Regions from separate parts of the Homo sapiens genome. Here region 2 is linked to region 1. The links come from fine-mapping of genetic effects on gene expression. A gene starts in region 1. The other region holds a variant in brackets. All regions are shown on one strand. Distances are from middle to middle.

Region 1 (5,368 bases):
AAAATTAGCTGGGTGTGGTGGTGCACACCTGTAATCCCAGCAACTTGGGAGGCTGAAGCAGGAGAATCACTTGAACCCAGGAGGCGGAAGTTGCAGTGAGCTGAGATCGCACCACTGCACTCCAGCCTGGGCAACAGAGCAAAACTCCATCTTAAAAAAAACAAGAAAAAGTACAGATTCGGGCCAGGCGCGGTGGCTCACGCCTGTAATCCCAGCACTTTGGGAGGCCAAGGCGGTAGGATCACGAGGTCAGGAGTTTGAGACCAGTCTGGCCAACATGGTGGAACCCCATCTCCACTAAAAATTAAAAAATTAGCCAGGCGTGGTAGCAGGCGCCTGTAATCCCAGCTACTCGGGAGGCTGAGGCAGGAAAATTGCTTGAACCTGGGAGGAGGAGGTTGCAATGAGCGGAGATCACTCCACTGCACTCCACCCTGGGCGACAGAGCAAGACTCTGTCTTGGGGGAAAAAAAAAAGTACATATTCGAAGGCTTTATCCCAGATGATCAGAACCTGCATTTTTAACAGGCTCCCTCAGATGACACTAAAGACCTGGAGAGCCACCAGGCAGTCTGGATATACCATGAACTAATGAGCTGTAAGCTTCAGGGTCCTCCACTTGCACAGGCCCTTTCCAAACCATCAGCAACTTTGTATTGTGATTTTTGTCTTTTTAAAGAGGTCTCCCAGAATTGCATGAGGTCCCACAAATTGTGGGTCTGCTCTTGGGTAGGATAAGTGGAAACCACTTAAGGTTTTCTGAGCAGAAGCACAAGCATTCAAGATACAATTTTCAAACTGGAAGGATCTGCAAGATTCCAGACCAGCACATCAAATATGCTTTAGAGAAATCCAGCCAGACTCAGCGGCTCATGTCTGTAATCCCAACACTTTGGGAGGCTGAGGCAGGCAGATCACTTGGGCTCAGGAGTTCAAGACCAGCCTGGCCAACATGGCAAAATCCCGTCCCTATAAAAAATACAAAACTTAACCAGGTATGGCGGCACACACCTGTAGTCCCAGCTACTTGGGAGGCTGAGGTGGGAGGATTGCTCAAGCCCGGGAGGCAGAGGTTAGCAGTGAGCTGAGATTTTGCCACTGCACTCCAGCATGGGTAATAGAACAAGACTGTTTCCAAATAAATAACTAAATAAATAGAAAGAGAAAGAAAAACCCAGCAGCCAGGAGCAGAACACAATAATGGCCTGAAAGAGAATATGAGGCCAGCATGGGGGCTCACATCTATAGTCCCAGCACTTCGGGAGGCCTGAGGCGGGAGGATCACTTGAGGCTAGGAGGTCGGGACCAGACTGGGCAACATAGTGAGACTCCCAATCTCTACAGAAAAATTTTGAGCCAGGCATGGTGTCGTGCCCCTGCAGTCCTTGCTAATAGGAGGCTGAGGCTGGAGGATCATGAGTTTAGGAAGCCGAGGCTGCAGTGAGCTATGATCGCACCACTGCACTCCAGCCTGGGCGACAGAGAGGCCCTTGTATCAACAAAACAAAAATGTGAGAGAGGGTAATAGTGAGAACTGGGGTCAGCCAGGTCTAAAAGAGTGCTGATGTCTTCACAGAAAAAGGGGAGGCAGGCCCTGGGCGGTGGCTCCTGTCTGTAATCCCAGCACTTTGGGAGGCCGAGGCGGGCAGATCACCTGAGGTCAGGAGTTCGAAACCAGCCTGACCAATATGGTGAAACACCGTCTCTACTAAAAATACAAAAAGTAGCCGGGTGTGGTGACGCGTGCCTGTAGTCCCAGCTACTCGGGAGGCTGAGGCAAGAGAATCACTTGAACCCGGGAGGTCGAGGTTGCAGTGAGCCGAGATCACGCAACTGCACTCCAGCCTGGGCGACAGAGTGAGATTCCGTTTCAAAAACAAAACAAAACAAAACAAAAAAAGTTGGTGGGGAGGCAGGAGGATACCTTTCGTGTTGGGTGGTGGAAAAGATTCCAGCGGGTGAGGTGGGAACTGAGCCCAAGCAAAGCAGCCCAATCTACCTTCTTTCTGTTGCACCCTACAAACGCTCTGAAAGCAGCTGAAGACAGAGTTCTCCAAGAAGGAACCAAAGGTCAAGATAATGCTGAGTCTGCCTTACACCCGCAGGCTTGCTGGGACCCACGCAGCCCGAGCCCCGGCCCGTTTCCTTCTCGGGCTGGGGCGCTGGATGGAGCACCGGGGTAGGAGGGCGGGCTCCGGGCGCCGGGAGCGCAGCTGCCGGGGGTCGGGGGGGCGGACAGGCCGGGTCCCTGCCACCCCAGCCAGGTCCGCGCCCGCGTCCCCGCGTCCCGCGGCCCCAGGGCCTCACCGCGCGCGCCCAGCTCGGCGGCCGCCACGTGCTCGGTGAGCACTGTCCCGAATCGCCGCAGCCGAGACACGATCCGCTCGTACAGCGTCCTGTCCTCGCGTCCGCCGCGAATGCTCCCGCAGAAGTACAGGGCCGGGCGGCCAGGCTCCCCGCGCTCCCAGCTCTCGCTGCGCCCCGGCACCATGGCAGCAGCCATTCCCCAGCCGCCCGCGCTCTCCGGCGCCAGGGGGCGCCAGCCCGCGGCCACGTGACCCCGCCCGGCCCAGCGCAGAGCCCGGCTGCTGAGTCCACACCTGTGGAATGGGGACGACGAACTGGGAGGATCCAGCCGGGACCCTTTCGGGAACACACCCTTCCTGGACTTGACGTTCGGATGCCTAACACGCACCTTAACTTGACCTTGTCCAGGCAGAACTCGAGGGCTTCCCCACCTCACCCGCTTCTGCTCCCCTCCTCCCCGCCGTCTTCCCCAGCTGCATCCTCCCAGCTGCTCAGGCCCAAGACCCTCGGAGTCATCTGGATCGTTCCCTTTCTCTCAAACTCTGCGTCCCATCCATTGACAACTCGTGTGGATTCGTCCTTCCAAATCTGAAATCTCACGACCGCCTACAGGGCCACCACCCTGGTCTAAGCCTCCTCTGGGCTCTCCACAGCCTCCTAACAGGTGTCCACATGTCGTGAGCTGCTCAAGGTCAGACAGAACCAGGTCCACCCACCTTTGTGTCTGTCCACAAGATCAGGTTTTTACTGATGCTATTTCAATCACAAAAGCTAGGCGTCACACGGAGTTCCCAAGAAGTCAGTTCTCCTTAGGACCACCTGTTCACTCGGTAGTCAGAGCCGCGGGCATGCAAGCTGGAGCCACTCCACAAGTCAGACTGTATTGCAAACCATCCATAGTATTATATGTAAGGATATAAATGTTACAGGTTAAAATTTCACATCAAACACAAGAACATTTAACATCAAGAGAAAAGGGGTTAACGAACCAGTCCAAGGAGAGTGCTGTGGACAGAGTCCCGGCCTGATGGGGATAGTCATCAAGAGCTTGCAAGGAAGAGTCCTTGATTTGGGCAGAGCCTTCAGAGGCAGACACCAGGTGCTGGGCACGAGTGATAGCAAGACTCGGTCTGTTAAGGTGGCCGTGTCTAGCTGCTGAAGTCCTGATCATTTTATGGTCCTTGAGTCCTCTGATGAGGACTTATAGTAAAGGGTGATGCCCTTATCTGGTTGGGTGTTGTCTCCATTGGTTAGGCGAACATCTGGACCCTGTTGGCTTGATGCCTTTTGAAATGTAAGATGAAGTTTTTTAAAACTTTATTTATTTATTTATTTATTATTTTTGGTGACAAGGTCCCTGTCGCCCACACTGGAGTGCAGAGGCACGATCATTGCTCACTGCAGCCTCAAACTCGTGCCTCAAGTTTGAGGGTTCAAGGAATCCTCCCACCTCAGCTTCCTGAGTAGCTAGGACTACAGGCACGTGCCACCATGCTGAGCTAATAAAAAAAAAATTGGCTGGGCTCGGTGGCTCATGTCTGTAATCCCAGCACTTTGGGAGGCCGAGGTGGGCAGATCACGAGGTCAGGAGATCGAGACCATCCTGGCTAACGCGGTGAAACCCCGTCTCTACTAAAAATACAAAAAGTTAGCCAGGCGTGGTGGCACACTCCTGTAGTCCCAGCTACTCCAGAGGCTGAGGCTGGAGAATCGCTTGAACCCGGGAGGCAGAGGTTGCAGTGAGCCAAGATCACGCCACTGCACTCCAGCCTAGGCAACAGAGTGAAACTCCATCTCAAAAAAAAAAAAATTGTAGAGACGAGGTCTCACTATGTTTCCACGGCTGGTCTCAAAACTCCTAGACCCAAGCAATCCCCCTACCTCAGCCTCCCAAAGCGCTGGGATTACAGGCATAAGCGAATGTGCCCAGTGATGGAGTCTTTCTAAGATGGAATTACTTATGTCAAGGGTTCTCTATACACCTCCCCTGGCCCTTCCCTGCTACAGTTTGCTCTCCACTCAGCAGCTTGAGTGATCTAGGTCATGACCCTCCTCTGCTCAAAACCCTCCAGTGGTTCCCATCTCACTTGGGGTAAAAACTGAAAACCTCACAGTAGCTCACAAGGCTCCAGATGATCCTGTCACCCTCTTACTTCCCTAACTCCAGCTTCTATTACTTTCATTCACTTCTCTGCCACCTCACTGGCTTCCTGGCTGTTCCTTAAGCATGTCAGCCATGCCCTTGCCTCAGAGTCTTTGCATTTGCTGTTCCCTCTGCCCGGAACACTGTTCTCCCAGGTAGCTTCCTGGCTCACTCCTCATTTCCTTCAAGTCTTTGTTCACACTTCACCTTCCCTGATCACCCTATTCAATATGGCAGCCCTCCATCCCCCAGTACTCTCTATCACCCTTCCCTACCTTGCCTTTTCTCCTTCTCATACACCATATAACTTATTAATTTTGTTGCATGTTTTTCTATACCTAGTAGAAGGTCGTTCACTGCTGTATTCCTGCTTTCTTTCTTTTCTTTCTTTCCTTCTTTCTCTTTCTTTCTTCTTTCTTTCTTTTTCTTTCTTTCCTTCCTTCCTCCCTCCCGTCCTTCCTTTCCTTCCTTCCTTCCTCCTTCTTTCTTCTTTCTTTCTTTCTTTTTCTTTCTTTCTCCTTCTTTCTTCCTTCTTTCCCCTTCCTTCCTTCCTCTCTCTCTCTTCTTTCTTTCCCTTCCTCCCTCCCTTCCTTCCTCCCTTTCTTTCTTTCTCTTTTTTTCTCTTTCTTTCTTTTCTTTCTTAAGAGATGGTGTCTTGCTCTGTCACCCAGGCTGGAGTGCAGTGTCATGGTCACAGCTCACTGCAGCCTCAAACTCTTAGGATCAAGCAATCCTCCCTCATCATCCTCCTGAATAGCTGGGACTACAGGCGAGTGCCACCATGCCTGGCTAATTTTTTATAGAAATGGGGTCTCACTATGTTGCCCAGGCTTATCTTAAACTCCTGGGCTCAAGCAATCCTCCCACCTCAGCCTCCCAAAGTACTGGGATTACAGGTGTGAGCCACTGTGCCTAGCC
Region 2 (5,368 bases), 740 kb after region 1:
TTATATATAATATATTATATAATATATATTATATATCAAGTATATATATATAATATATAACATATATATTATAAACTTATATATATGTATTATATGTATATAAGCTCTTCCCACTTTGGAAATCATTGACTTCAACTACAAGGAAGGGCATGTCGTCCACCGGTTAAGTTTGTGGGCCCTGGAGCCAGGCTGCCTGAGTTCAAATCTTGGCTCTGCCACATACTAGCTGAGGGACTTCGGGGAAGCAATGTAACCTCTTCCGGGTTGGTCTTTCATTTGTAAAATGGGATGATGAGTATAATAGCAATTAAGCAGAATAGCCAGGGGCTCCTTGAAAGGACAAAGACAGCATGGCCACTCCCATACCATCCCTAGGATGACCACTGGGTGCAAGCCCATTGCCCCTTAGAAGATTCCTCATCCCCAACTTCCAGGCAAGGCAGACTCACCAACCAATCCATAAAGCACCTACTGTGTGCTTAGCACCAAGCAGGTAGGTTTGAAGGATGATGCTCCCCTGACCCCAGACATACACAATATGCTGACTGCTTAATGGGTTCACAGAGTCTCGTGAGAACTTCTCTCCATTGTGCAGGATGGGGAAACTGAGGGCCAAAGAGAGGACACTAGGTCTTTAGAACACAAGCAGGACTTTCTTCCCAGGGCCGGAAAGAACTTTGAAAAGGAAATGTCAAAAGCACAATGGCAATTCTGAGCCAAGCAGGGAGGAAGGAGAGAGGGGAGCTGAGAGGGAATGATAGTGCATGGAGGAGCAGGCTGTGGATGTGGGAGTGTATAAGCTGCAGCCTGGTGCTCTGCGAGGAGCTGCCAGTGAGCCACCAGCCTTTGCAGAGCAGAGAACTCAGGTGGTGGGAGAGCTGAGCCCAACTCTTGCAGATCACTTGGTTGAGGGGAGGACTCACTGGCTATCCTGGCTCCCTGGCCAAGCCCCATCCCCACGTCCACCCACTCCCACCTACCTTGCCCAATCTGCACTGGGCCCTGGAGGATGTTGCCAAACACTAGGTCATTGACCTTGGGTGTGGGGTGGGCACAGCAGGGAAGGTGGGGGGTGGGAGAGGGGCCAGCAATCCCTGTTTGACTGGAGCTGTTCCAGGGCTGCTTGGGCTGACCCGACTGCTCCCATGTCATTGCTGAGCTGTCGGGGCTGTAGAGTCACTTGCCTTACAAATCTGGAGGCAGCAGGCTGTGTGGACTCTGGCCTGGTGCCCCCTCTCTGTGGCAGTACCTGGTGTGTGTGTGTGGGGCCTTCCAGGTGCCTGACCCCTGCCCACCCCAACTTGCTGCACCCTCTCCCGGGAACATTCTCAGTGGAAGCTCATAATCTCCTTTTAAAAATCCTGGTTCACCCCAGACTGACTTGTAGAGGCCACTCCAACCTCCCACCTCGCCCACATTAGGATTCCAACCAGATAATTTCAAATGACACCCCACCCCCCAACCTCCTGCTGCTGACAGCTTCCTCCTTCTTCCTAGCTAGCTCTTCCTCCATTCATTGTCCCCTCCTAACTCTCCCCCATCTCCCTCCCTCTTAGCCAGCTCACAGGCAGGACAGGGCAGAGATTCAGGAGGGCAAAGTCTTCACCCCAGGAATGAGGTGGTTTGAGTTCCCAGTTTTGTCCCTTATTGCTGTGAGACCTTGGACAAGTTATTCAATGTGTGTCTTAGTTTCTTCATCTATGAAGTGGGATTAATAATAGTACCAATCTCTTGGAGTCATCAGAAAGACTAGAGGGAGTGGTCATTATTATTAATTCCTTACCAACCTCCCTTCCCCCACACCCCTCCTCATCCAGCCTTCACCCTCTCTACTCCCCCAACCCCCAATATACACACAGGAATCGGGAATTACATAGAGGGTGAGACGTATACCAATGGCACTTCATCAGAACTACTGCCTTTCTGAGACCTGAGGGCAGTAGTGTGTTGGAGCCAATCTGCTGCAGCTTGGACAGTTGTAAACTTTTCTTCCCAACTGCTTATCCATTGACTTCAGGTTGGTAGTCTGAAGTCAGCCATGGTGGGAGTATTTACACCACAGAAATTGGCAAATGCTACAAAAGAGGACTTTTTCACCCAGAGAGCTGGTCGTGAAACAATAACCAGCCACTGCCTGGGGGTCAGGGTACCCTGAACATTGACCACAGCAGCAAGCACCTGGGAAAGGGCTAGAAAGGCCCTGGATGGGGGGTGTGGGTAGAGCTACTCAGCCCCATCTCCTTTTTCCTCCCCTCCAGCCCCCTTCAGCCCTGTGCCTGGACCACTAAGGTTGCTTCCTGACTGAGGTCCCTGTACCCACTCAGCCCCCTCCACTCTCCTCTCTACTATCCTGAAATAAAAACCAACCTTAGGCCCTCCTCTTAGGGTGAGGGTGAGCCCCCCAGGCCATGTAGGCTCTGGCCCCTTTCCTCCTGCTCTTCCTCTGAGTGCCTCCACCCTTATTCACAGGCTCACTCTTGTCTCAGAGCCTCTGCCTAGACTGCTCTTCCCAGCCTCCAAACCCACTTTCCAGGGCTGATCTGCATTCACACTTCAATGTTCTTCTCTGATCACCCACCCACCCCACCTCAAGAACAATACTTATCACAGTTTTTATCATTTTTGTGTGTGCAGTTATTTCAAGTTTTTCTCACCCACAGAGATGGAAAGCTTCAGGAAGGGAACAGGTTCTGGCTTGTTCAGCACTAATCTCCCACACAGGGCCTAAAATATAGTAGGTGCCTGATAAATATTTACCAAATGGATGAATGAACTATCCCGTTGGAACACTGATGTTAAGCAGTAAGGGAATGCTTTTAAACCAGGAGGGAGGCTGTGCTTACAGTGGAGACCTGAGCACAGTGCGGAAGTGCAAGTCCCTGTCCCATCTTTACTTACTGTGTGATGTGGGAATCTCCATTTCCTCTCCTGTAGGATGGGATCATAATAATGACAATCACACACTTGGCAAAACCCTGAGGTTGCTACGCCATCAAATGCAACAACGGACGTGAGACTCTTCTACGAACTGCCCAGCCAAGTCTGCAGAGGGCTGACAATGGGCTTGGATTCAGATCCCAGCACTGCTGCTTAGTAGCTGGGTCAGCTTGGAGAAGTTACTCAACCTCTTTGAGTGTCAGTCTCCTCAAAGATGCAGTGCAATCTCTACCTCATAGGGAAGTAGGAGAGAGACAGTGTGTCTCAAGCACTCAACACCAAGTCTAGCACGGAGTAAGCCTGAAGCTCAAGTGGGCGTCCACTGTGACTATTACCTTTATCGCCAAACATATTTTATACAGGAGCTGTGTAGCATTGCTTATTGA[GA/G]AACCAAAGAATGATGTTATAGTATATGTTTTTATAATACGCCTAGGACAGGAGGGTGGGGCAGACTTTGGGGAGAGACCTCCTTGAGCATCTCTTCATGCTAGGCACTGGGCTGTACACACATGGGGAGCTGCCAGCCATCTCCGCCTGCCCTAAGGTGGTTCATTCTACAGGCTCATTCACCTCTGGAAAGTAAAACCAGCCACAGTGGAAGGAGCATCTGAGGCAGATCCTGGCCACAGGCAGAACCCTGTGGGAATCAGGCCATAGGACATTTATGCAATATGGTTGAACAGGAACAGGGTAGTGGCCTCTTAGAGCTCAGCTTCAGATCACAGGGAAATGGGGTTTCCCATAGGGCCAGGGTAGGTTCAGGATGGAAGCCAAAACCACTCGGGTAGGCTGGGCTGAGCACTTGATTGGGGGCTCAGGAGAGAGAGGTACCACAATCTGAGCACCTCCTATTAATACTTGGTAGGCTCTGGCCTGGGCACTTTAAAGAGCATCAAAGCAATCCTACCAGGTAGGTGCTACTAGCCCATTTTCCAAAGGAAGAAACTAAGGCTCAGAGAAGTGAGGCCAAAATATGCTGAACCAGAATTCTACTCCTTGAGCAGGCAGCTTTCCACTGCCCCAGCCTGCCTCCCCCGGGGAAGGAACCTAGGTGCTGACGGGACCTGTCCTGGGCTGTCTCCAAGGAGAGAAAGCAAGCAACAGGGCCCAGGACCCTGGACTCTCTCCCCCAAGTCTCCTCCACTTCCAAGTAGAAGTGGAGACCTCTGTATGCCTCTAGAAGAATAAATTATTAAGAATGTTATTAGCTATAATTTAATGAGCGATTATTATGTGCCAGTGAGCTTTCATTAACTCATTTAATGCTCACAACAGCCCGGTGGCTGGGTCCCTGCCCACCTTTATATATGGATGAGAAACCAAAGTCCAGAAAAGCTAGCATTGATTCCTCTGGCACCCCTTCTACTTTTTTGGAAAATAAAAATGCGTTGTTGCAATACTTTGGAGCATCAACCCAGAATCACATAACAAGAACAGAGGAATTAGTCAGTTGCAAAGTCCTCCCTCGTGTCTACCCCAAGTCCCTCAGGCTGCAGTGAGAGCTTGACATTCCCCAGCTTCTCTGGGCCAGCCAGCAGCCACCCCCTACCATGTGGCCTTGGTCCCTCCTCTGCTGGGAATCAGGAGGGGGGTGGTCCTCCTTTGTTCCCCAGGCTCGGGGGAGCATTCCTACCCCAGAGAGGCCAGCTGAGGTCACGGGTCTATGCCCCCTCCCCAGGCCAGCCTGACCAAGCTGGCAGCCCCGTCAATCAGGTGCAGCCTGCTCAGCAGCCAGCCTTTTATTTCCTATATTAAAAGGGCTTGTGATTCCTGATTGAATTAAAGGCGGGAAGGTCAGCTCTGAGACCAGCAGGGAGATTTCAATCACGGGAGACCGGAGGCAGCCAAGGTGGGCAGGGGGGCAAGGCAGGGAGCAGACAAGGCCAGGAGCAAGAGTAGGGACGGGCACCACCGCTTCTCTCCCAGGCCAGACCAGTCAAAGCATGGTACAAGGGTGGCTAGTCCACAGCACCCACCCCCACAACCCTTTTGAAAATGTCAGTTTGAATTAAAGAAATTTCATCCTCTGATACAGCAGACAACCTGAACTGCTGGACTAGGCAGACTTGCTTGCGTATCTGTTAGTTAAAATGCCCTCAGAAAAGTGAATTCCACAGTTTCCCTCATTTCCTACTGTCAGCAGGTTCTTTCTGACTTCTCTCTTAAACTCCATGTTGGATCTTAAGGAGACAAAGATGATGCTACTTGCTTTGAAGTTATAAAGGACAGTCAATCAGCTGCTTTTTCGGCACCTATGGCTCAGGCTCAGGGATCCTGCAAACTGCCAGTGCTTTCCTGCGACCTGGGTAGAGTGGGGAGAGGACTGCAATGAACACAGTCTTCCTGGCTGTGTGCTTGGGGGAAAGCTCCTCATTTGCCCAGGGACTCAGTTTCCCCATCTGTGCAATGGGCAGCATAGTCCGTACAGGAT

The links.
Region 2: its variant is fine-mapped to the expression of DNPH1 in vagina (GTEx, PIP 0.99).

Annotation. Positions count from the first base shown.
Region 1 is chr6:43,226,954-43,232,321 of GRCh38, forward strand. DNPH1 (2'-deoxynucleoside 5'-phosphate N-hydrolase 1) reads right to left here and starts at 2,528. Exons shown (of 4, transcript NM_006443.3): 1 at 2,308-2,528. The coding sequence starts at 2,503. RefSeq lists silencers at 2,137-2,326, 2,387-2,826 and an enhancer at 2,310-2,809.
Region 2 is chr6:43,963,916-43,969,283 of GRCh38, forward strand. No RefSeq gene overlaps it. Among named protein-coding and RNA genes, the nearest start is that of LINC03040, 34 kb to the right of the region's middle. RefSeq lists an enhancer at 1,103-1,602. The variant GA/G (reference allele first, on the strand shown) is at 3,324.